3 linked regions of the Homo sapiens genome follow. The protein of the gene in region 1 interacts with the protein of each later gene in a pairwise test. Each region holds a gene or a part of one and is shown in the gene's direction. Other genes may lie near its edges.

Region 1 (7,886 bases):
GTACAAAAATTACCCGGGCATGGTGGCACATGCCTGTAATCCCAGCTACTTGGGAAACTGAGGCAGGAGACTCAATTGAACCCAGGAGGTGGAGGCTGCAGTGAGCCAAGATCGTACCACTGCACTCCAGTCTGGGCAATGGTTGGGAGCAGTGGCTCACACCTGTCATTTCAGCGTGAAGAGAGGTGAAGGCAGGAGAAGTACTTGAGGCCAGGAATTTGAGACTAGCCTGGGCAATATATTGAGACCTCATTTCTACAAAAAAAAAAAAAAAAAGTAAAGATTTGAATAGATATCTGTCCAAAAAACGCCCAGCGCGGTGGCTCATGCCTGTAATCCCAGCACTTTGGGAGGCCAAGGCAGGCGGATCACAAGGTCAAGAGATCGAGAGCATCTTGGCTAACACAGTGAAACCCCTTCTCTACTAAAAGTACAAAAAATTAGCCGGGCGTGGTGGCAGGCGCCTGTAGTCCCAGCTACTCAGGAGGCTGAGGAAGGAGAATGGCGTGAACCCGGGAGGCGGAGCTTGCAGTGAGCGGAGATCGCGCCACTGCACTCCAGCCTGGGCGACAGAGCAAGACTCCATCTCAAAAATAAATAAATAAATGGTTATATATACTCAGCCATAGAAATGAGCAAAGTACTGATACATACTATAACATGAATGAGCCTTGAAAATGTTATGCTGTGAACCCAGGAGGTGGAGCTTGCAGTGAGCAGAGATCATGCCACTGCATTCCAGCCTGGGCCACAGTGCGAAACTCCGTTTTTAAAAAAAATAATAATACTAAGAAAAGAAAATGTTATGCTGGCCCAGTGCGGTGGCTCACACCTGGAATCCCAGCAGTTTGGGAGGCTGAGGCAGGAGGATCACTTGAGGAGTGCAGGAGGCCGAGGCTGCGGTGAGCCAAGATTGGGCCACTGCACTCCAGTATGGGCAACAGCAAGACTCCATCTAAAAAAAAAAAAAAAAGAAGAAGAAGAAAGAAAGAAAAAAAAAGCAAAAATGTTATGCTAAGTAAAGAAGTCAGACAAAAGACCACATAATATATGAATGAGTCCATTTATTTGAAATGCCCAGAATGGGCAAATCCATAGCGACAGGAAGCAAATTAGTGGATACCAGGGGATGAGGGAAGGGGGAAATAGGGAGTAATTACTTCATAGGTGTGGGGTGTTTTCTGGAGTGATGAAGTTTTGAAACTAAAGAAAGGTGGTGGTTGTACAACATTGTGAATGTAATAAATGGCATTGAAGTGTACACTTTAAAGTAGTTAATTGTTTGTTACATGAATTTAATCTCAAGTAAAAATGTAAACTTCAAAGGCCAGGTGCGGTGGCTCACACCTGTAATCCTAGCACTTTGTGAGACCGAGGCAGGCAGATTGCTTGAGCCAAAAAAAATTAGCTGGGCGTAGTGGCACGCGCCTGTAGCCCCAGCTACTCGGGAGACTGAGGAGGGAGGATCGCTTCAGCCCAGAAGGTTGAGGCTGCAGTGAGCTGCGATCCTGCCATTGCACTCCAGCCTAGGCATCTAGGCATCAGAGTGAGATCCTATCTCAAACCAAACAAACAAACAAACAAACAAAAACAACATAGACTTCAATTAAAGAGTGAATAGAAACTGATAAACATAAATATCACCTCCAATGCCCTGGCCATGCTGAGAATGCACAGGGTGCCAAGCCTCCTCTCCTTCACTGCAGCCCCAAAAGGCAGGGATTCTCTGGGGCTCAGAGATGGGAAGGGACTGAGCCAGTCTTACAGAGCCACCAAGGCACAGTGGCAGGGTCCCTCAGGCCTCCCTGCCCCCAAACTTCCAGCGATGGCTGTGGCCCCCTGGGGTTCTCTCCTGGCCTCCCTGGGTGGAAGCTGGTGAGGTCAGAGGCCAGGAACGTTTCTGCAGCCACAAGGCGGGGGTTAGTGACTGAGGAGGTTGGAATGTGCTCCCTCTGAAAGGACCTCCTTGTGGCTCCAGTGACGGTTAGAGCAGGAAGAGACTTTCAAAGTCATGTAACACACACACACACACCCCAGACCTGAATCCCTGCTCCCTCAGCTGCCCCAGTGGCCCCAGCATCCACTGCTTGGGGGCGGTGGGGTCAGGTGCAGGGTGATGTTTCTGGAGCAGGCAAGTGAATGCAGTCAAGGCTGACCTGTGTCACCCCTCCCCTGGTTACCTGTGTCACACTTGACCTGTCCAGCTTGGGCTCTGCCAAGAAGTTGAGGTATCAGTGTGTGTGCACATGTGCTGTGTGAGTGCCTTCATGTGTGATCAGTCCCAAAGGCTCTCACCCCTGGGTTGTTTTGTTTTGTTTTGTTTTTTGACGGAGTCTTACTCTGTTGCCCATGCTGGAGTGCAATGGCGCAATCTTGGCTCACTGCAACCTCCGCCTCCCGGGTTCAAGCGATTCTCCTGCCTCAGCCTCCCAAGCAGCTGGGACTACAGGCATGGGCCACCATGCCCAGCTAACTTTTGTATTTTTGGTAAAGACGGGGTTTCTCCATGTTAGTCAGGCTGGTCTCGAAATCCTGACCTCGTGATCCACCTGCCTCAGCCTCCCAAAGTGCTGGGATTACAGGCGTGAGCCACGGCACCCAGCCTATGTGTCAAATTCTTACTATGTGCTGTGCTAAGCATGTGACATTACTTGTGTCCTCCAACAACCCTTGAGATAGTTATCATTATGTCTCCATTTCACAGATAATGAAAGAGGCTCTGAGAGATTGTGTGCCTCACCTAGGTCACACAACTGGTGAGCAGCCTAACCACATTCAAACCCAGACCCCAGAGCTGTCTGACCCCAGCACGGGTGTTCTGTCCACGGATCATACTGCCTCAAAAACACTCTCCTCTCCTTTCTCTCTCTCTTTCTCTCTCTCTCTCTCTCTCTCTCACACACACACACACACACACACACAGAGATGATGATGACAAGAGGGTGACAAGCATTGGGTCGCTCAAAGGCAAAGGAGAGGCACCAGGCTGGTAACCACTTTCTGAGTGCATAACACTTTATAGCTTACAAAGCATTTTCACATCTGTGATCTCACTTGATCCCACAACAGCTCTGTGAGATCAGCAGGGAGGCCCAGTTGAAGGAAGGTGACCTGCCCAGTGTCACACAGACAGAAAATGGTAGCTCTGGGACTAGAACCCCAGGGGCAATCTGGACTTCCTGGCTCTAAGTCCTGAGTGCACCCACAGGCTTCTGGCCTGTGTTCCCAAGGAAAGTAGCCCAGAGGGCAAAGCTAGAGCTGATGAAATGGAAGGACCGATGGAGAAGCAGGAGAGCCCAGCCCTCTCTTGATCTATTTACTTTGAGTCTTGCTCTGTCCCCCAGGCTGGACTGCAGTGGCGCAGTCACAGCTCACCGCAGCCTCAACCTCCCTGGCTTAAGCCATCCTCCCGCCTCAGCCTCCAGAACAGCTGGGACCACAAGGCAGGCGTACCACCATGTCCAGAAAATTTTATAATTTTTTGTAGAGATGGGGTCTCAAATGGTTCTTTCTGCCTTGGCCTTCCAAAGTGCTAGGATTACAAGCATGAGCCACCACACCTGGCCCCAGCCCTCTTTCTGTAGTCGTGTGACAACTGACAGCTCAGTACTCCATCTGGGCCTCAGTTTCCTCATCTATGATGGAAGTAATCAGAGAGAAGCTTTGGGATGGTGCCCAGCACTAACATTCTGGATGTGCGACAAGGTGTCTGTGAAGGTGTAAGGGCTTTGAAAATCTTGGCTGAGCCTGGGCTTGGAGTGCCCACGGCTGTGACTTGGCAACCTGTGCCAGCTACTCACTTAGCGACTTCAAGCAATTCATTTCAGCATCTCCCAGCCTCAGTTTCCCCATCTGTAAAACAGAGATGAGGATGATACCTGCCTCACATTCACTCACCTTTGACATACTCTCCAAACAAGTCTGGTGGCCACAAGCCTCCGAAAGGCACTGACCGTAATGAAGATGGCGTTTATCAGACCTCAGGACACCTGTAGTGGCCCTGAATTAAAACTCGTTATAGCTCCTGAAATTATCCTGAGTAATACTATTATATTGCATTTTATGTGGGGTTAGTTCAAAGCATTACCTTATCGCAAACATTTAAAATATACCACCCAGCCTGGGCAATACGGCGAGACCCAATCCCTACAAAAAACACAAAAATTACCTGGGTGTGGTGACGCGCGCCTGTAGTCCCACTTACTTGGAGGGGGCGCTGAGGCAGGAGAATCCCTTTAGCTCAGGAAGTTGAGCCTGCAGTGCGCCGAGATCGAGCCACTGCACTCCAGCCTGGGTGACAGAGACCCGGTCTCAAAAATATAAAGTAAAATAAAATATGCCACCATTTTTGTAACCCTGGTTTGTCATTTATTCACTTTTCATATACTCGAAGCCTTAAAACAAGGCCAGTGGAAAGACCTCACTCCACGAAGCTTTGGGTGGCGGTTGGCGTGGCTCCTAGAGATGTGATTCTTTCGTGCTATTTTGTGGGAGCAGAAACGGAGGTTAGCCCAGGCCTCGAGAGGGCTGGGGCGGGGCGCGGGCTCTGGCAGGTGCGTCAGTCCGCAGGGGAACCCGGGGCTCCACCTGGGCGCGGCGAGGAAGTTACACCATGTATGGGCAGCTACGTCAGGGGGGCGGGCCCGCAGCCTCCGGGGAACGCCGAGCCGGGCCCATCCCGGTGAAAAGGCTGCAGCCGGACTTGGGGAGGCGTCGCCAAGTTCGGGACCGACGGGCCAAGGCGGCGCGTCTCGGGGGTGGAGCCTGGAGGTGACCGCGCCGCTGCAACGCCCCCACCCCCCGCGGTCGCAGTGGTTCAGCCCGAGAACTTTTCATTCATAAAAAGAAAAGACTCCGCACGGCGCGGGTGAGTCAGAACCCAGCAGCCGTGTACCCCGCAGAGCCGCCAGCCCCGGGCATGTTCCGAGACTTCGGGGAACCCGGCCCGAGCTCCGGGAACGGCGGCGGGTACGGCGGCCCCGCGCAGCCCCCGGCCGCAGCGCAGGCAGCCCAGCAGGTGAGTGGGGCCCGACGCCGGTGGTCCCACGGGAGGACCGCGCGTGGGAGGCCGGGGTCAACTCCCGCACGCTCCGGGACTGGAGCGGGGAACCGGAGTCGGGGCCGGGCTGGGGGCTGGGGCGAGGATCCTGCCCCTCGCCGTCCGGGGCCAGTTGCCCCCACCGCGCAGCGGGCAGCAGAGACCCGCGAACTCCCCTTCTCCCAGCCGCCCCCTTCTCCCTCGCCGTCCGCGTCCGTCCCTCCGTCTCCGTGCCCGCTTTCTCTCCTCCTGCCCACCTCTGACTTCTGCGTCCACCCTGCTTCAGAAGGGGCGTGGGCGCCTAGGGTGGTCGCCTCGAAGGCTAGGAGGGTCTCTCCGCTTCGGGCTGAATTCCTGGGATCTGGAGTCTGGGCTGGGGTGAGGGTCCCCACACGGGAGGGAGGCGGGATCCGTCGGGAGAGCAGCTGGGCCAGGGTGGGAGTCCCGGCCCGGTCTGCGACCCTCCGCGTGTCCGTCCGTCTGTCTGTCCTTCGCCCCTCCGTCGCCAAGTCCCTATCGTTTCTCGGCCTGGGGAGTCCAGGGGGGTCCGGGCAGTGGAACCTGCCAGGTCCCCGGAGACCGGCCCTCGATCCCTTTGCCGAATGCGGCGAATAGAGACCTCGAGGTTCCGGGACGTGCGCGGGGTCAGGCTGCGGGCGACTCTCGCGACCCCACTCTCAGCCCCTAACGGCGCCCGCTGCCCGCCGGGGGGCACCCGGGAGGCTGCAGGTGCCCATTTCCTGTCGAGGGGCTGCGAGCACGTGTCGACAGGGGAGGGAAGGAGGGGCGTCCGTTCCGCCGAGTCACGGCGGCCGAGTCACGGCGGCTGAGTCACCCGGGGCGTCCCTCCCTTCCTGGCCTGGAGCGGCCCGGGCCCGGGAGTGGGAGATGCCGCCGGCGGTGCCTCGGACCCGGAACTGGGGTCACTGGGACGCCGGGCCCGCAGCGCTTGGGCTCGGGCTACCGCTGTCGGGACTTGCCTGGGCTTGTGGGCGCTTCCCGGACGATTGGGCGCCCACACCCAGGGCCCAGCGGCAGAGCTAGAACCCACTTCTCCCAGAACACTGAGCCCCATCCCAACCCACTCCTCAGATAGCTGGCTGATAGAATGGGAACAGGGACGTTGTGCTGGGCGCTTGCTACATCATTTACCATATTTCACGGAATCGAAGACCTCATCGATTGAAAAAAAAACCCACTATAACTTTATGCCACTAATTTTCTTTCCTTCTCTTTCTTTTCTTTTTTTTTTTTTTTCTGAGACAGGGTCTCCCTCTGTTGCCCAGACTATAGAGCAGTGGTGCAATCACAGCTCACTGCAGCCTCAGCCTCCTGGGCTCAAGCAATCCTACTGAGATCCTAGCTGGGAAGCGACCTGGCCACAGGCACGCACCACCACACCCAACTAATTTTTTAATTTTTTTGTAGAAATGAAGTCTCACTGTGTTGCCCGGTGTGACCTCAAACTCCTGAGCTCAAGTGATCCTTCTACCTCAGCCTCCCAAAGTGCTGGGTATGAGCCACCATGCCTAGTCCACTAAAATTTTTTAAATTGCCAATTAAACTATGATTTCAGAGCTATTAAAGGGTACTTCTTAACATCAGTGAAATCCTGTAATCCTCACCTGTAACAATATTAAAAATGAGGAAACTGAGGCACATGGAGGTTAAATAACTTGCCCATGGTCACACAGCCAGTAAGTAGCTGAGAGCTGAGATTAGAATTGGGACAGCCTGCCATGCCAGGTGGCTAAAGCCTGTCATCTCAACACTTTGGGAGGCTGAGGTGGGTGGACTGCTTCAGCTCAGGAATTTGAGACCACCCTGGGCAACCTAGTGAGACCCTGTCTCTACAAAAAAATTTAAAAAAAATTAGCCAGGCCGTGCGCGGTGCCTCATGCCTATAATCCCAGCACTGTGGGAGGCCAAGGCGGGTGGATCACCAGAGGTCAGGAGTTCAAGACCAGCCTGGCCAACATAGTGAAACCCTGTCTCTACTAAAAATACAAAAATTAGCCGGGCACAGTTGTGGGCGCCTGTAGTCCCAGCTACTCGGGAGGCTGAGGCAGGAGAATTGCTTGAATCCAGGAGGTGGAGGTTGCAGTGAGGCGAGATCGGGCTACTGCACTCCAACCTGGGTGACAAAGCAAGACTGTGTCTCAAAAAAAAAAAAACAGAAAAGAAAAAAAAAATTAGCCAAATGTGGTGGTGCACGTCGGTAGTCCCAGCTACTTGGGAGGCTGAGGTGGGAGGATTGCTTGAGCCCGCAGGTCACTGCACTCCAACCTGGGTGAAAGAGTGAGACCCTGTCTCAAGAAAAAAAAAAAAAAAAGCAATGGAATGGCCTGAACCCAGAGCAGTGACTCTTTCCTGCCTCAGCCCCTCTGCACTGGGCACCTGCCACTTACCAGACTGTCGCACACATTCTCTCACCTGATTCTCACAGCCTCCCCTTGAGCTGGGAGCTGTAATTATCCTCTTCGTGCAAACGGGTGCAGGAGTGGGTAAGAGCCCAGCTGCTGGGCTCATTGGCTCTGTGTCTGCGGACAACTGTTCTCCCGTCTGAAAATGAAGATACTAGGCTGGGCGCTGTGGTTCACGCCTGTAATCCCAGCACTTTGGGAGGCCGAGGCGGGTGGATCACCTGAGGTTGGGAGCTGGAGACCAGCCTGGCAAACATGGTGAAACCCTGTCTCTACCACAAATACAAAAATTAGCCGGGCATGGTGGTGCACGCCTATAATCCCAGCTACTCAGGAGGCTGGGGCAGGAGGATCACTCGAACCTGGGAGGCGCAGGTTGCAGTGAGCTGAGATCGTGCCACTACACTCCAGCCTGGGCAACAGAG
Region 2 (7,023 bases), on another chromosome or scaffold:
GGTGCTAGAACTGGCTCCCTTATGAAAGATAAGACCTGAATTATAAGCATATTTGAGCATATTGAAAGTAGCTAAGTAATGAATAAAAGTCAAGATGGACTCTTTCATTGGATAATTGGGTAATTTGCTTTCTCAATAGAAGGTGACACAGAATTGCTTGTAGAATAAAAAAAAATTCTTTCTGGAAGGAACTTTCTGGAAGTAGTTCAACCATCGTGTTTTATACTTGGTTGGCATGGCAGCTTGGGAACTCAAACCCTATTATTCTCAACTCTCAAGTGAGAGTTCCTTTTCCTACTGGATGCTGCCCCATGAATTTCTATGGCTTATGTGGTTATTAGGCCTTTATTTAGTCCTTGCAGCATCATAGTTATATGTATATGGATAAACAAGAAGCTGATTGCCCTTCTCTACTGAGGACATTAATTGGTGTTCATTTTCCCACAATAACATGGCTAAATAAGTATTAACATGTTACATTAAGAAATATGTCCTGCCAGGCACAGTGGCTCATGCCTGTAATCCCAGCACTTGGGGAGGCTGAGGCTGGAGAATCACTTGAGGCCAGGAGTTCAAGAGCAGCCTGGGCAAAATAGCTACACCCCATCTTTGCAAAACATTTTTTAAAATTAGGTGGGCATTGTGGCACATGTCTCTAGTCCCTGCTACTCAGAAGGCTGAGGTGGGAGGATTGCTTGAGCCCAGGAGGTAGAGGCTGCAGTGAACTATGATGGTGCCACTGTAGTCCAGCCTGGACGACATAGCAAGACCCTGTCTCTATAACAATAAAAAAGAAAAAAAGAATATGTTCATATTCACATATATCTTTAAATGATGGTCAGTTGTCTCAATATTCTCAGGGTTCTGCATTTTTACAGATCCTCACAACACTCAGGCCTTTGGTCTCTGTACTTACAACATATTGCTTTATTAATAAAGTGTTTTGCTGTTCATAGACTAAATGCCACCAAAGTCATATACTTTGTATGGGGTTTTGGTGATAGGCCAGGGCACCACATGTGCTGACTAGTGCTCTTTTTATAGTAAAACAGACTTATGAAAGCAAAAATTTATTGTGAAACTGTTTGGGGCATGCCAAATATCATAGGCAGTTAGCTCTTTGCTAACTGTAGAAACCCAGAGAATAGAATTGAGTGTTTTCTTAGGGAAGGGGCAATGAACACTTTGTGCCTGGGAGATCGAATGCTGCCAAGAAAGGGTTTCATTGCCCAGGACATAGTGGGGGAAGAAATGGAGACTAAATTCAACCTCTCCAAGATGGCCACAGGCAGGGGTGTTTTTTCTTCCAAAAGTATAAGAAAGCAAGAGAACCCAGTTTTGTTTTTAATACTTTTCTTGTTTGTTTTCTAGGTAGAAAAGTGTGGATTCACTAGAAATTAGAACTTGATTCCATTTTCTAAGATCCATTGTCTACATTATCTGCAGCTGAGAGCTTCTACTCAGGGGGCAAGGTGTCTAGCAGTTTCGATTTCAGAAAAGTGTTATTTCTGTAGTCTAAATGCAAATAATATGACATTTCCTTCTGAAGCAAATATATACGCACACACACACACACACACACACACACACATAAACACATCTCTGTTTCCTTTCTTGGTTTTTGTTTGGTTGTTTTTTTTTAACCAGAGATTGCCTTCATTTGATGGTCTAGAAGTGACTTTCTTTTATATGTGCTATTTTGAGCAGAAGGAGAACTGAGAAAAAGAAGGAAGGCCATCTGAATTTAGATAGGTGTAAAGTCAAAGAGGAAGAAGTTAGTGTTTAAGGCTAAAATAAATTGTCCTGTAAGTTATCCCACTGACCTTGGAATTGACAGGGTCACTTTTGGTTTCCACAGAGCCCCTTATCAATCACATTCATTTGGAGTTGGGAGGTACAATTTGCCTTCTTGTATGTTCTGAGATGTAAGAGCAATTTTCTTGTTTGATTAAGTGATTTATTCATCATTAAGGCTAATTTCCCAAATAGTCATTTTTATTTTGTAAAAATAAAGTTTGGAAGAGAAAGGGAATGAGATGAGATTTGTAGATGAGATTTTTATTATTTTGTCATTGTTTTATTTTATTATTTTTGTTATTAATGTTACTCAATATGTGGTTGCTTATAATTTATTTCACCAAGAAATTTAGAAATGGGAGATATTCCTTAAAACAGATTTCAATTTTTTTTAGCGCAACTTCTAGAATCCCAAACATACTTTCCTAGGTGATAAATACATGGCTGAAAAGCCAAGTTCATATTGAAAGTGTAGGTACAACTTAATGACAGCAATGTTAATCGTCCTTTTCGGTGTGCATGCATTTTTTAAGTCTCCTACATGTGAGGTATAATGCCTGGCAGCCACAAATAAACCTTGACCAAAGAGAGGATATTATTGATCACAATTTTTAAGTGGCTTATTCAAGATAGTGCTACATTTACGTTCACTTTTATCAAGTGGAAGCATCTCGGAGCTACCATCTATTTTATGTTTATATTTGTAGACAATGGGTGCCAAGTTCATTATTCTACAAAGCTATGAGCATGCCTTTGTGAATTAATATTAACAGATAAAGTAGAGATCCGAGGCACTTACATGAGTAAATAAGAAGAAAACCCCACACCATCCACAATATCCTGATATTGAGGGGGGAAAGAGTATTTTATAGACCGAAATTGACCAAATAATCAATGAACTCAATCAAATTAATTCAATCATGGCCCAAAACTTCATTGCCTCCTTGCCACCCTGAGCTGACATCATCCACCTGCAGCTGACCAACATGTGTACTGTATGCTTCCATACCTCCTGCTCAGTGGGCATCAGGCAGGTAGATGTGCTCTGCTCAACAGTATCCCATGAACAGTAATTGAGTAGGAGATGGTGGGGAGAGCAGGGATTCATGACTGAAGGTCAATTTATTTTCAGATATTCTTTTTAGATTGAGCAACACAGACTTCTTTTGGAAAATCTGATGGTAGATGAGTCAGCTTATTCTGATTGCATTTCAGGTGGAAGCCACAAATCCTACCACATAATTCTGCCCAATGTGCGCCTCATATTCACATTCTCAATTGGATGTAAACCTGAGCTTGTGAAGGTTACAATAGTTAAATGTATTAAGTCCTTATTATGTGCTGGGTATTGTTCTGTTTCCCATCTATTACTGTATTTAATCCTCATAGTAACACAAATAATGTACTCTTCTTATCCCCATCTTATAACGAGGTTGCTGGAGCTCAGCTGGGTTATGTAATCTACCTAGGGTCACACAGTCAGTGTGGAGTAAGGATTCTCACCTGGCTTCGGTTCCCATCACCTAAGGGTGTGGTCTAGCCTTTTAATAAGGTTCAGCTCTTGAGTTAAAACCTAAGCTCTGCAGAAAGCCCCTGGGAAATGTGAGGGCCAAATTAAAGGTAAGCTACAAACTTTCAGGTGAACCACATTAAATAATATTCTTAATGTCATTTAGACATAATGGAAGAGTTTGCCAGTTTTGTTGTTGAAAGTGCACAGGGCTGTGGGTTTGTATCCTCTGGTCTTCTCAACATGGTTTTAATACATATCTCTTTTAGAATGAAGTGTCTATGTTGAAAAATGAGGTGGCCCAGCTGAAACAGTTGTTGTTAACACATAAAGACTGCCCAATAACAGCCATGCAGAAAGAATCACAAGGATATCTAAGTAAGTCGCCGACTTTTTCACTTTTCTTTAGTGTCCAATATTTTTTGCCACTAAGTTTGCACTGAATTTGATTGAAAGAGCAAAAGTAAAGTGTAGATTGTACTTCCAGGCAGATATACAAGAATTCTTGAGTGGCTTCCAGACTATTCTTCCAAGGGGATCCCTTTTTTCTGACCCCTGTGCAACACCATGCCCACCACCTCCTGATAATTTCTGGCCACTCCTTCCCTAGCATTTCAAAGTATCAAAAGAAATACCAAATTCCAATTTTGCAGCCAGTAAGAAAAGAGCCAGCTGAAGCCCAAGTACCAGTGGCCTAGCAGTCGCCTTCAGAAATCTGTGGTCTGGGAACCAGGCCTTGGGTGAATCATATCCAGTGCCTCCAGAAACACTGCATGTTACTCACTGGGCTGAAAAGCTAGTGACTGGCCTCAGTTTACCAATATGTAAAATGATCCCTTCCTTCAGACCCCAGTTTCTGCATCTGGAATGCCAGTTGGTTAAATGATAGTTGAGTAGGGATGGTGGGAGGAGCAGGGATTCATGGCTGAAGGTCAATTTATTTTCAAATAATTTTTTAGATTGAGCAACACAGATTCTCCCACCACATGTGAGTATTTTTCCACATTTGATATACGGATGGCTATTTAAAAAGACAAAATGGGGAAGTTCACATATCCATGACTGAAACACATCAAATCATTTTACTGATACAGAAAGCATGGCTTTGCTCGTAGATATAAACTGGAAAGGCATAGCATTGTGACAACAGTTGAAAATAAAGTTTTGAAATTAACTTTCAGAAGAAAATGTGTGAAACTTCTATTTCAAGTAAATATCTAGTACAGTTTCTCTGAGGAGTCCACAAGTCCATACAAAAAAGACCTATATTGGTGTGTGTGTATGTGTGTGTGTTGTCTTTTTTTTTCTCCCTAGGTCCAGAGAGTAGCCCTCCTGCTAGTCCTGTCCCAGCTTGCTCCCAGCAACAAGTCATCCAGCATAATACCATCACTACTTCCTCATCGGTCAGCGAGGTGGTAGGAAGCTCCACCCTCAGCCAGCTCACCACTCACAGAACAGACCTGAATCCGATTCTTTAAAATGCACCATCAGACCTGGCCTCCAAGAAGAGCTGTAGCGTACCATGCGTCCTTTCTTTTAAGGGCATTTTTAGAATTAACTCAGACCTGGAAGACTCCTCAGTTCTTCAAAGACTGGCTTTCATTTTTATAGTTATTATGGAAATGTTGTCTTTTATACTTAGTTATATAAGAAAAAAGGGAGTTATGCAATTAATATCTATCAGCTTGGGAAACGCTTTGGTGCTTTTCTCCAGTTTTCTGGTACCAGTTACTTGTTTATAAACTGAACCTTTTCTGTATATAGCCATGGTTTCATTCTTATCAGTCCAACCCTTTGCCTGAAACATTGAATCTTGTTAAACCACAGCTTTTAGCTAAAATGAGGTATACCTAGATGTCAAGTAAGACAGATCCAAGGTAACTGGGTAGGAAATCTTTTGACATCTTAACTCATGTTGAGTTTGTGCTGTGGTGTCACCAGAATTCCAGATAAACACACAGCCTTTCCCATACCTTTTTTTTTCTTACTATAAAATATTATAAGATCCATTGATGTCCAAATAATACCACCAAGCATCTCTTCACCTCTCCTCCTCTTGGTCCACTTGCTAATGCCCAGTTTTCTTCTCCATTTCCACTTTTTCTTAGGCTCCCTATTTACTATTCATTTTGACTTCCTTCTGTTTTATTTTTTTCCCTTTAGCATTGCATGTGAATAAGAAAATAATGTTTAAAGAAAAAAAAAAAAAAGCAAACCTCCAAAACGTGGACCTAACCATTGCTTCACTTACACTTCACCCACAGCTGGAGTTCATTCAACTCTTGCTTTTCACAAAATAGTAACCAGGAGATGTTTAATGTGCCTGATTTAATGTTTTTAATAATCACAGCAAATGAAAGGTGGTTTAGTTATAAGTGAAGCATGGTTGAATACCAGCTGGGGAGACACTAGGGAAGGGAGCTTTGTAAGCCTTGATTGCGAAAGTCCAAATTTTGATGTGGGGCTATAACATGACACCCTTGGATTGCGACTGGTTTTATACGGCCTGCCTATAACGTTGAAAATCCATGTACTACATAATAATTCAGAAGGGCTCTATTCACTACACAGATTACATTGTTCAATCATCAGCTGCTAATAGCCTAAGATTTATTTTTTTTTTTTTCTTAAGCCTATGGAACCGGCTTTGCTGTTCTGGGGGGTGAAAATAGACTAACTACTGGAGAAACAAAGAGAGAAAGAAAACCCAGTGTTTCCATAGGGGCACTTTTAGCCTTCCCACAACAGTTAAGCACTCTTTGACTGCTGAAGGAACCCCATGGATGAGGTGCAGGCTACTTCACTCTTTTTTTTTCTTTTTTGAGACAGAGTCTCACCTATTGCCCAGACTGAAGTGCAGTGGTGCGATCATGGATCACTGCAGCAGCATCCTCCGAGTTCAAGCTATCCTTCCACCTCCGCCTCCTGAGTAGCTGGGACCACAGGTTCACATAACCATGCCTGGCTAATTTATTTTTACTTTTATTTTAAAATAAAAGATGAGGTCTGTCTTATGTTGCCCAGGCTGGTCTCAAACTATCCTACTTCTTCCTCCCAAAGTGTTGGGATTATAGGTGTGAGCCACTGCACCCAGCCTACTTCACTCTTCTGAATTATTCTGATTTATTTTCAACAACTTTTGTGAACTTGCCCGTGATACAAAGCAGATAGTCCCTGAACCACAGTCGTGCCTCCTTGAAACAAGCCATTCTACTGTGCTAATGTTTTAATATCACATCTCACAAATAACAGGGGTGAATGTTTCTCTCTAGCAATCTAGGCAGGTGCTGGTGTTTCATCTCCATTTGAATGCTTGACCTCTTAATGTGTGTGTGTGTGTGTGTGTGTGTGTGTGTGTTCATGGGTTTTAAAAGAACAGTATTTTACAAAAGGTGTAGCTTTTATAAGAGTGCAGAAAAGGGAAGGATGTGTTTTTTTCTCTCACTATAGTATAAGAATCTATTTTGGAGAAAAAAAGAAAATATGAGGGTCTCGAAGCATGATTTTTATATAACTAGTTTCAGTTTTATCTAATAACTTACTTTTTAAATCAATATTTATCAACAATCTTTCCTTGTATGCAGTGCTTTCAAAAGATGGTTTTGAGTGTCCAGTGAAACTTATGACTTGGATATATGGTTGAAGAATCAAAACAAAAGCAAAAAAAAAAAGCAAAAAAAGAAAAGAGAAAAAAAGAAAAAATGCAAATGGAATAA
Region 3 (7,023 bases), on another chromosome or scaffold:
TGGTCCTGGAGGGCCACCCCAGCTCCTCACAGTGAGCCTGTCCCTTGCACTCATCCAGTGCCTCCCAATGGCTGCAGGAGAGCGCCCAGCTCCGTGACAAGCTGTCCCAGCTGCAGCTGGAGATGGCGGAAAGCAAAGGCATGCTGTCAGAGCTGAACCTAGAGGTGCAGCAGAAGACCGACCGGCTGGCTGAGGTGGAGCTGCGACTCAAGGACTGCCTGGCTGAGAAGGCACAGGAGGAGGAGCGGCTTAGTCGGCGCCTGCGTGACAGCCACGAGACCATTGCCAGCCTGCGGGCCCAGTCCCCACCTGTCAAGGTGAGCCCTGGCCCACCTGATCTGTGCCTCAGCCCAAGGCCCCTGGCACCTGGGGCAGGGCTAGCCCATAAGGGGGGCTTGTCCTGGTGAATAGGTAGGTGTGTGTGGGTGGAAGAATCATTCCAGTTCTGTGCTTGGTCCTGCCCCTTCCCCTTCCTGTATCCAGGGCCAGGCACCGAGTAGGTATCCAACAGCTGAGGTGCCAGGCACAGATGCAGCGCAGCCCCTGGATTCTGCCCTCGTCTTTTTGCCTTTCTTGTCTGTACCCAGGATGGGGCCCCAGCCAGGCTCATAGTAGCCTCTTGTTAAGCTGAGAAGGTTCCAGGAGACCCCCCCAGCTTTCTGGAAAGCCAGGACCTCAAGGCTCCTCTAGTTTTTTTCTGGTTTCTGAGTGGGATGTTCCCGAGAGTTCCTTCCCCTGGCCTGCTGCGTCTCAGGCTCTTGGGTGAGGTACGGTGCCCGCTGGCTCCACGTGCCATTCCTCCCTCACCCTGCAGTATGTCATCAAGACAGTGGAGGTGGAGTCGTCCAAGACCAAGCAGGCCCTCAGCGAGTCCCAGGCCCGGAACCAGCACCTGCAGGAGCAGGTGGCTATGCAGAGGCAGGTGCTGAAGGAGATGGAACAGCAGCTGCAGAGCTCACACCAGCTGACCGCGCGGCTCCGGGCGCAGGTACCCAGGCTGTGTGGGGGCACATGCCCAGCCAGGAAGCCAGAGGCAGGCCCTTGGGCCAATGCATCGGTTAAACATTTGGGTACCCCACAGACACGGGGTCCAGTCCCTCCTCTCCCCGATGGCCACGGGACCCAGGGCAAGTTTTGTCTGGTTTCCTTTTCCTCATCTATTATAACACGATCTGGTCCCAGAACCCACCTCACAGTGGGGACTCAGGAACGTCATCCCAAGAAGCTTTGTGCCCACGGCCCAGCACACAGGCTGTGCTCAGTAAGCTCTACATGGCACTTGTCACTGTCATCACAGAGGCCCTCTCCTACCTTCCTGAGGGCACGTGGCTTGGGCACCTGATGTGTGCTCAGCACTGGGTTGGTGTTGGAGCCAATGCCCAGAGCTCACAGCCCTGTAGGGGGAGGGAGACAAGGCCATTCTGCCCCTCTGGGTGTGCACATGTGTGTGTGCATGTGTGTTCATGTGCATGGGAGGTGACCAGTTTCTTTCTCGGTGTGGCACCTGCCCCTCTCTCTCCCGCACCTCGAGGTACTGAGCCTTTTCCTGGTCTGGCCAGATTGCCATGTACGAGTCAGAGCTGGAGCGGGCCCATGGGCAGATGCTGGAGGAGATGCAGTCCCTGGAAGAGGACAAGAACCGGGCCATTGAGGAGGCCTTTGCCAGAGCCCAGGTGGAGATGAAGGCTGTGCACGAGAATCTAGCAGGTGAGCTGACCAGCTGGGCCCTGTCTGCCCCACGCCGCGGCCCCTCATCCCCTCCCGCCTCACAGCCCGAGTGTCCCCATAGGCGTCCGGACCAACTTGCTGACCTTGCAGCCGGCACTGCGGACCCTCACCAACGACTACAATGGGCTCAAGCGGCAGGTGCGCGGCTTCCCACTGCTGCTGCAGGAGGCCCTCAGGAGTGTCAAGGCCGAGGTGAGCGAGGGCAGTGGGTGGGAGGGTCCAGGCTAAGGGGGTGCACTGGGAGAGGCACGACATCCACTCAGGGCGTCCCTCCAAAGCTCAGACAAAGCCGCTCAGACAGCAGCCCCTGCCCCACCCCCCATGACACTTACTGCTGCCCTTATAGGCCCTGTTTGAAACTAGACTGCTCAGGGCAGGCATTCGGCTATTTGTCTTACTATGATTCTTTAAACCAAACATGTTACAGATAACTTCATATTTCAAACATGCAGGCCAGGCGCGGTGGCTCACACCTGTAATTCCAACACTTTGGGAGGCCGAGGCAGGCGGATCACTTGAGGTCAGGAGTTTGAGACCAGCCTGGCCAACAAGGCGAAACTTCGTCTCTACTAAAATTACAAAAATTAGCTGGGCATGGGTGGCAGGTGCCTGTTAATTCCAGCTACTCGGGAGGCTGAGGCAGGAGAATCACTTGAACCCAGAAGGCGGAGGTTGCGGTGAACCAAGATCATGCCACTGCACTTCAGCCTGTGTGACAGCGAGACTTTATCTCAAAAACAAACAAAAAACATGCTACATACGTATTTTTTAAAAAAATTATTTATTAGAGACAGGGTTCATTATGTTGCCGAGGCTGGTCTTGAACTCCTGGCTTCAAGCAGTCCTCCTGCCTTGGCCTCCCGCAGTGCTGAGATTATTGGTGTGAGCCACCATGACTGGCCGATACAGTCTTACCTCTGTTAGGTTTAACTTAATTCTTTCAAGCTGTACTTGTACATATGAGAATAACCAGTGCCTCTTAAGTGCCTCCTACATGTCGAGCTGTTTATAGCCGTTAGCTCCTTGAATTTGTATGATAGCTTTGCAAAGACTAATATATTTTGGGAACAGAATATAGTTCTTCTCCTTTAAAAGACTATATCAGTAATACATGGACGTGGTGAAAAGTCAAACTCCATAGCAGGGCATCAGGTGAATAGGAAAGGCCTCTCTGCCACCCACCCAACTCTTCCAATGTGGCCTCTCAGCATTTCCCCCGACTGTTCTGAGCATGCTTAAGCCAATTGTGCGTGTGTGTGTGTGTGTGTGTGTGTGTGAGAATATATGGTAGGCCCTTCCCCCATCCACAGGTTCTGCATTCCCAGATTCAAACAACCACAGATCAAAAATAGTTGAAAAAAATTAACAGTACAACAATTAGAAATAATAGAAATAAAAAATAACATATAACAACTATTTACACAGCATTTTTTTGTTTTTGAGACAGTGTTTCACTCTTGTTGCCCAGGCTGGAGTGCAATGGCGGGATCTCAGCTTACTGCAACCCCCACCTCCCGGGTTCAAGCGACCCTCCTGCCTCAGCCTCCTGGATAGCTGGGATTACAGGCGTGTGCCACCATGCCGGGCTAGTTTTGTTTGTTTGTTTGTTTGTTTTGTATTTTTAATAGAGGCTGGGCTTCACCATGTTGGCCAGGCTGGTTTTGAACTCCTGACCTCAGGTGATCCGCCCACCTCCGCCTCCCAAAGTGCTGGCATTACCGGCATGAGCCACTGCACCCAGCCCCTACCCAGCATTTTCATTGTATTAGATATTATAAGTAACCTGGAGATGATTTAAAGTACATGGGAGGGGCTGGGCACAGTGGCTCACACCTGTAATCCCAACACTTTGGGAGGCTGAGGCAGGAGGAGCACTTGAGCCCAGGAGTTCAAGACCAGCTTCGGCAACATAGTGGGACCCCATCTCTACAAAAAAATATAAAAAAACTAGCTGAGTGTGGTTGCCTGCACCTGTAGTCCCAGCTACTCGGGAGGCTGAGGTGGGAGGATTGCTTGGGTCTGGGAGGTCAAGGCTGCAGTGAGCCAAGATAACACCACTCACAATGAGTTTCCACCACATCCATGGAGCTGTGATTGCACTTCCAGCCTGGGCAACAGAGCAAGACCCTGTCTCAAAAAAAATAAAGTATATGGGAGGATGTGTGTAGGTTATAGGCAAACACTATATCATTTTATATCAGGGGCTTGAGCATCTGTGGATTTTTGTATCCTCCACGGTTACTAAGGGAAGACTGTATACACTGTATACACTTCCCTTCTACTCCAGAAAGGGGATGTGTGATTTGTGTACAGTGTGATACTGTATGTGTGATTTTGCATCTTTTTTCTACCTGTGAAATGTAACTGGGAGATCTTTACAGATTCATGAGTTAGATGGTATTATCCCTGCTTTCCAGATGAGAAAATTGAGGCTTAAAGACATTGAGCCAGTGGTCTCAGGTCCCCAGCTACTCAGGGGCAGAGTTGGAATTTGAGTCTGGCTGAATCACATAGTCAAGCACTAGTGCTGTGGTGTGGAGGGCTGAGTCCTGGCTCTATGCTTATTAGCAGAGCAGCCTCAAGCTGTCAGCTTAGTGTCTGCGGCTCAGTTTCATCATCTGTAAAATGGGGATGGTAGCAGTACCTACCCAGAGGGGTGATTGGGACAGTCTGACATGTGACAGCGTGTGTCAGGTACTCAGCCAGGGGCAGGAGGCAGTGAGCACCCCTCAGGGGTGGGCAGTCAGGCCGGTAAGGCTGATGGAGCCGTCCCCCTGACAGTGGTGTGCACCCCCCACCAGATAGGCCAGGCCATCGAGGAGGTCAACAGCAACAACCAGGAGCTGCTGCGCAAGTACCGCCGCGAGCTGCAGCTGCGTAAGAAGTGCCACAATGAGCTCGTGCGGCTGAAAGGTGACTGCAGGAGGGCTGGGGGTGGGCGCTGGCCTCGGGGTCCTCGACCTGGCTTGGCAGTCATGCTTGGAGCTCACCCCACCATTGAGGCACTATTCTAATCCTATCTCTGTAGATAAGGAAACAGAGGCACAGAGAAGGCAGGGAACTTGCTCAAAGCCACATGGATATTAAATGGTCTGCCTTGGATTTGAACTTGAGTCTGTCCAGCTCAGAAGCCCTGGCCCCAGTGCCTGGGCAGGTGACTCCCCAGGCCCTGGGTAGCCGAGGGGTGTGGTGTTGCAGCATTGGGTTGGTGGCAGCTGGAAAGCCGCTTATTCTGACCTGGGGCCTGGTCAAGCTTGAGACTCCACCATTCACTGCATGGAGCTCTAGAGTGCCTGCTCTGTGCCAGGTGCCGTTCCAGCCCGAGGCTATGGTCGTGGCCCCACAGACTGCCTCCCGGTGCACACTTTAGTGTGAGAATCAACAATGATGATTGTCAGGGAACCCCAACCCTGCCCCCTTCCAGGGCTGAGACAGGCTTTCCTGGGTATGGGACAGGCAAGTGTGTTGAGGGGCTTCCCAGAGAAGGCAAAGTTAGAGCTGAGACCTGGACAGTGAGCTGGAACGGATGGGTGAAAAGGGAGGGCAGGTGGGCCATGCTGGCAGTGGGGGGTGTTTCCTCTTCATTCCAAGAGCACAGGGATCCCAACAAAGGCTGGAAGTAGATGGCGGCATGACCAGCTCATGCTGCCAGATACCCCTGTGGCTGCCCCACTATCTGGGCCCTCAGATACACCACCAGTCATCACCTGCTGCCTGGGCCTATATGCCCATCTGATTCCTAAGCCCTGTCCTGCCATTCAGGACAAGGCTCTTTGCTCATTGGGGCCCAAGCCCCTCATTGTCTGGATGAAGAAACTGAAGTCCAGGGAGAAAAAGAGTGTCCGTTCTGGTGTCTCACCCTGACGGGGTGCAGTGCTTGAGCCCCACAACTGACCTTTCCTCCCCATCCCCAAGGCAGAGCTCCACCCCAGTCAACTGGTCTGTTCAAGAAGAAATGTACTAAGTGAATTCATACTATAGTGTGAATGACGGATAACAGCTTTGTGGGCCCCCTTCCCCTAGGGGGCTGTGCTTAAAAGTCAGGGGACTCCTAGGTCAACTAGTCTGCCTGGGACACCAGTGGACCAGAATGGAGACTGGTCTTGACATGGCCTGGACCCATTTCCCCATCCCCAACCAATCCAGGGAACATCCGAGTGATTGCTCGTGTCCGGCCAGTCACCAAAGAGGATGGGGAAGGACCTGAGGCCACCAATGCTGTGACTTTCGATGCCGACGACGACTCCATCATCCACCTGCTGCACAAGGGCAAGCCTGTGTCCTTCGAGCTGGACAAGGTCTTCTCCCCACAGGCCTCGCAGCAGGACGTGAGTGTGGCCCCATGCGGGAAAGGGAAAGCAAGGGAGAGAGGGAAAGATGGACTCACAGGGAGCGGGGGCGCTGGGCAGGAAGAAGCGTTAAGAGTGGGGGGTGCAGGAATCAGAAGTGGGGAGCCAGGGTCCTGCTCCTTCCTCTGGAGGACAGAAGAGGGTGGGAAGTTAAGACTGAAGCCCTTGAAAGCCTCCTTAGGAAGGAGAGATCCAGACACAGCCCATCCCCTCCCATGGCTGTGGTTCCTCCCGTCCCCAAGGCCCCTTCTACCGTGTGGCCCCGCCCACCCTTGAGGCCCTTCCCACTATCGTAACTCATTCCATTCTCTCAGCTGTGGCTCCTCCCACCATGTGGCCCCTCCTATATCCACAGCCCCTTCCACCACATGGCCTCACCCACAGCCCCTCCCACCACCATGGCTTTGGGTCCTCCCATTCAGGTGGCCCCTTCCACTGCATGGCCCTGCCCACTCCCAAGGCCCCTCCTACCATCACAGCCCATCCCACCCTCATGCTGTGGCTCCTCCCATCTGCATGGCCCCACCCACCCTCAGGCCCCTCCCATCTTCCCACCATGTGGCCTCACCCACTTTCAGGCCCCTCCCACCATCACAGCCCCTCCCACCCCCATGGCCACCCACATGGCCCCATCCATCTTCATGACCCTGCCCATCTTCCCCATCCGGGAATACCCTCCTGTATCAGTCCCCTGGGCCTTCCTAGGAATCCCCCAACCCCCTGAGGCTGTATGAGAACCATGTGTTCTCAGTGTCCACTCTTCCCTTATCTCTGCCCAGACCAACCTGCCAGCCCTGCCAGGCCTGTGCCCTCCTGTTCTCATGTCTGGTTCTATCTTTGCCCCCATCCTCTGATGGCTGGCAGGCAGGCCCAGGCCAGAGAGGCCCCAGGCATGTGCTGGCCTCCACCTTCCTTGTGCTGAGCACTCTTTGAGAGAGAGCAGGAG

What was found. The genes of interacting proteins can lie anywhere in the genome.
Region 2: the proteins of FOSL1 (region 1) and CREB5 interact in binary tests that used the Homo sapiens proteins (3 or more experiments, as listed by UniProt).
Region 3: the proteins of FOSL1 (region 1) and KIFC3 interact in binary tests that used the Homo sapiens proteins (3 or more experiments, as listed by UniProt).

The regions. Positions count from the first base shown.
Region 1 is NC_000011.10:65,897,372-65,905,257, reverse strand, and holds the start of FOSL1 (fos-related antigen 1), read left to right. Parts: upstream 1-4,869; 5' UTR 4,870-4,918; coding exon 4,919-5,017; intron 5,018-7,886.
Region 2 is NC_000007.14:28,814,495-28,821,517, forward strand, and holds part of CREB5 (cyclic AMP-responsive element-binding protein 5), read left to right. Parts: intron 1-3,576; coding exon 3,577-3,685; intron 3,686-4,266; coding exon of another isoform or gene 4,267-4,271; exon of another isoform or gene 4,272-4,490; intron 4,491-4,621; coding exon 4,622-4,785; 3' UTR 4,786-7,023. UniProt on the Homo sapiens protein: Binds to the cAMP response element and activates transcription.
Region 3 is NC_000016.10:57,764,492-57,771,514, reverse strand, and holds part of KIFC3 (kinesin-like protein KIFC3), read left to right. Parts: intron 1-77; coding exon 78-317; intron 318-814; coding exon 815-988; intron 989-1,559; coding exon 1,560-1,707; intron 1,708-1,789; coding exon 1,790-1,920; intron 1,921-4,529; coding exon 4,530-4,641; intron 4,642-5,874; coding exon 5,875-6,056; intron 6,057-7,023. UniProt on the Homo sapiens protein: Minus-end microtubule-dependent motor protein. Involved in apically targeted transport. Required for zonula adherens maintenance.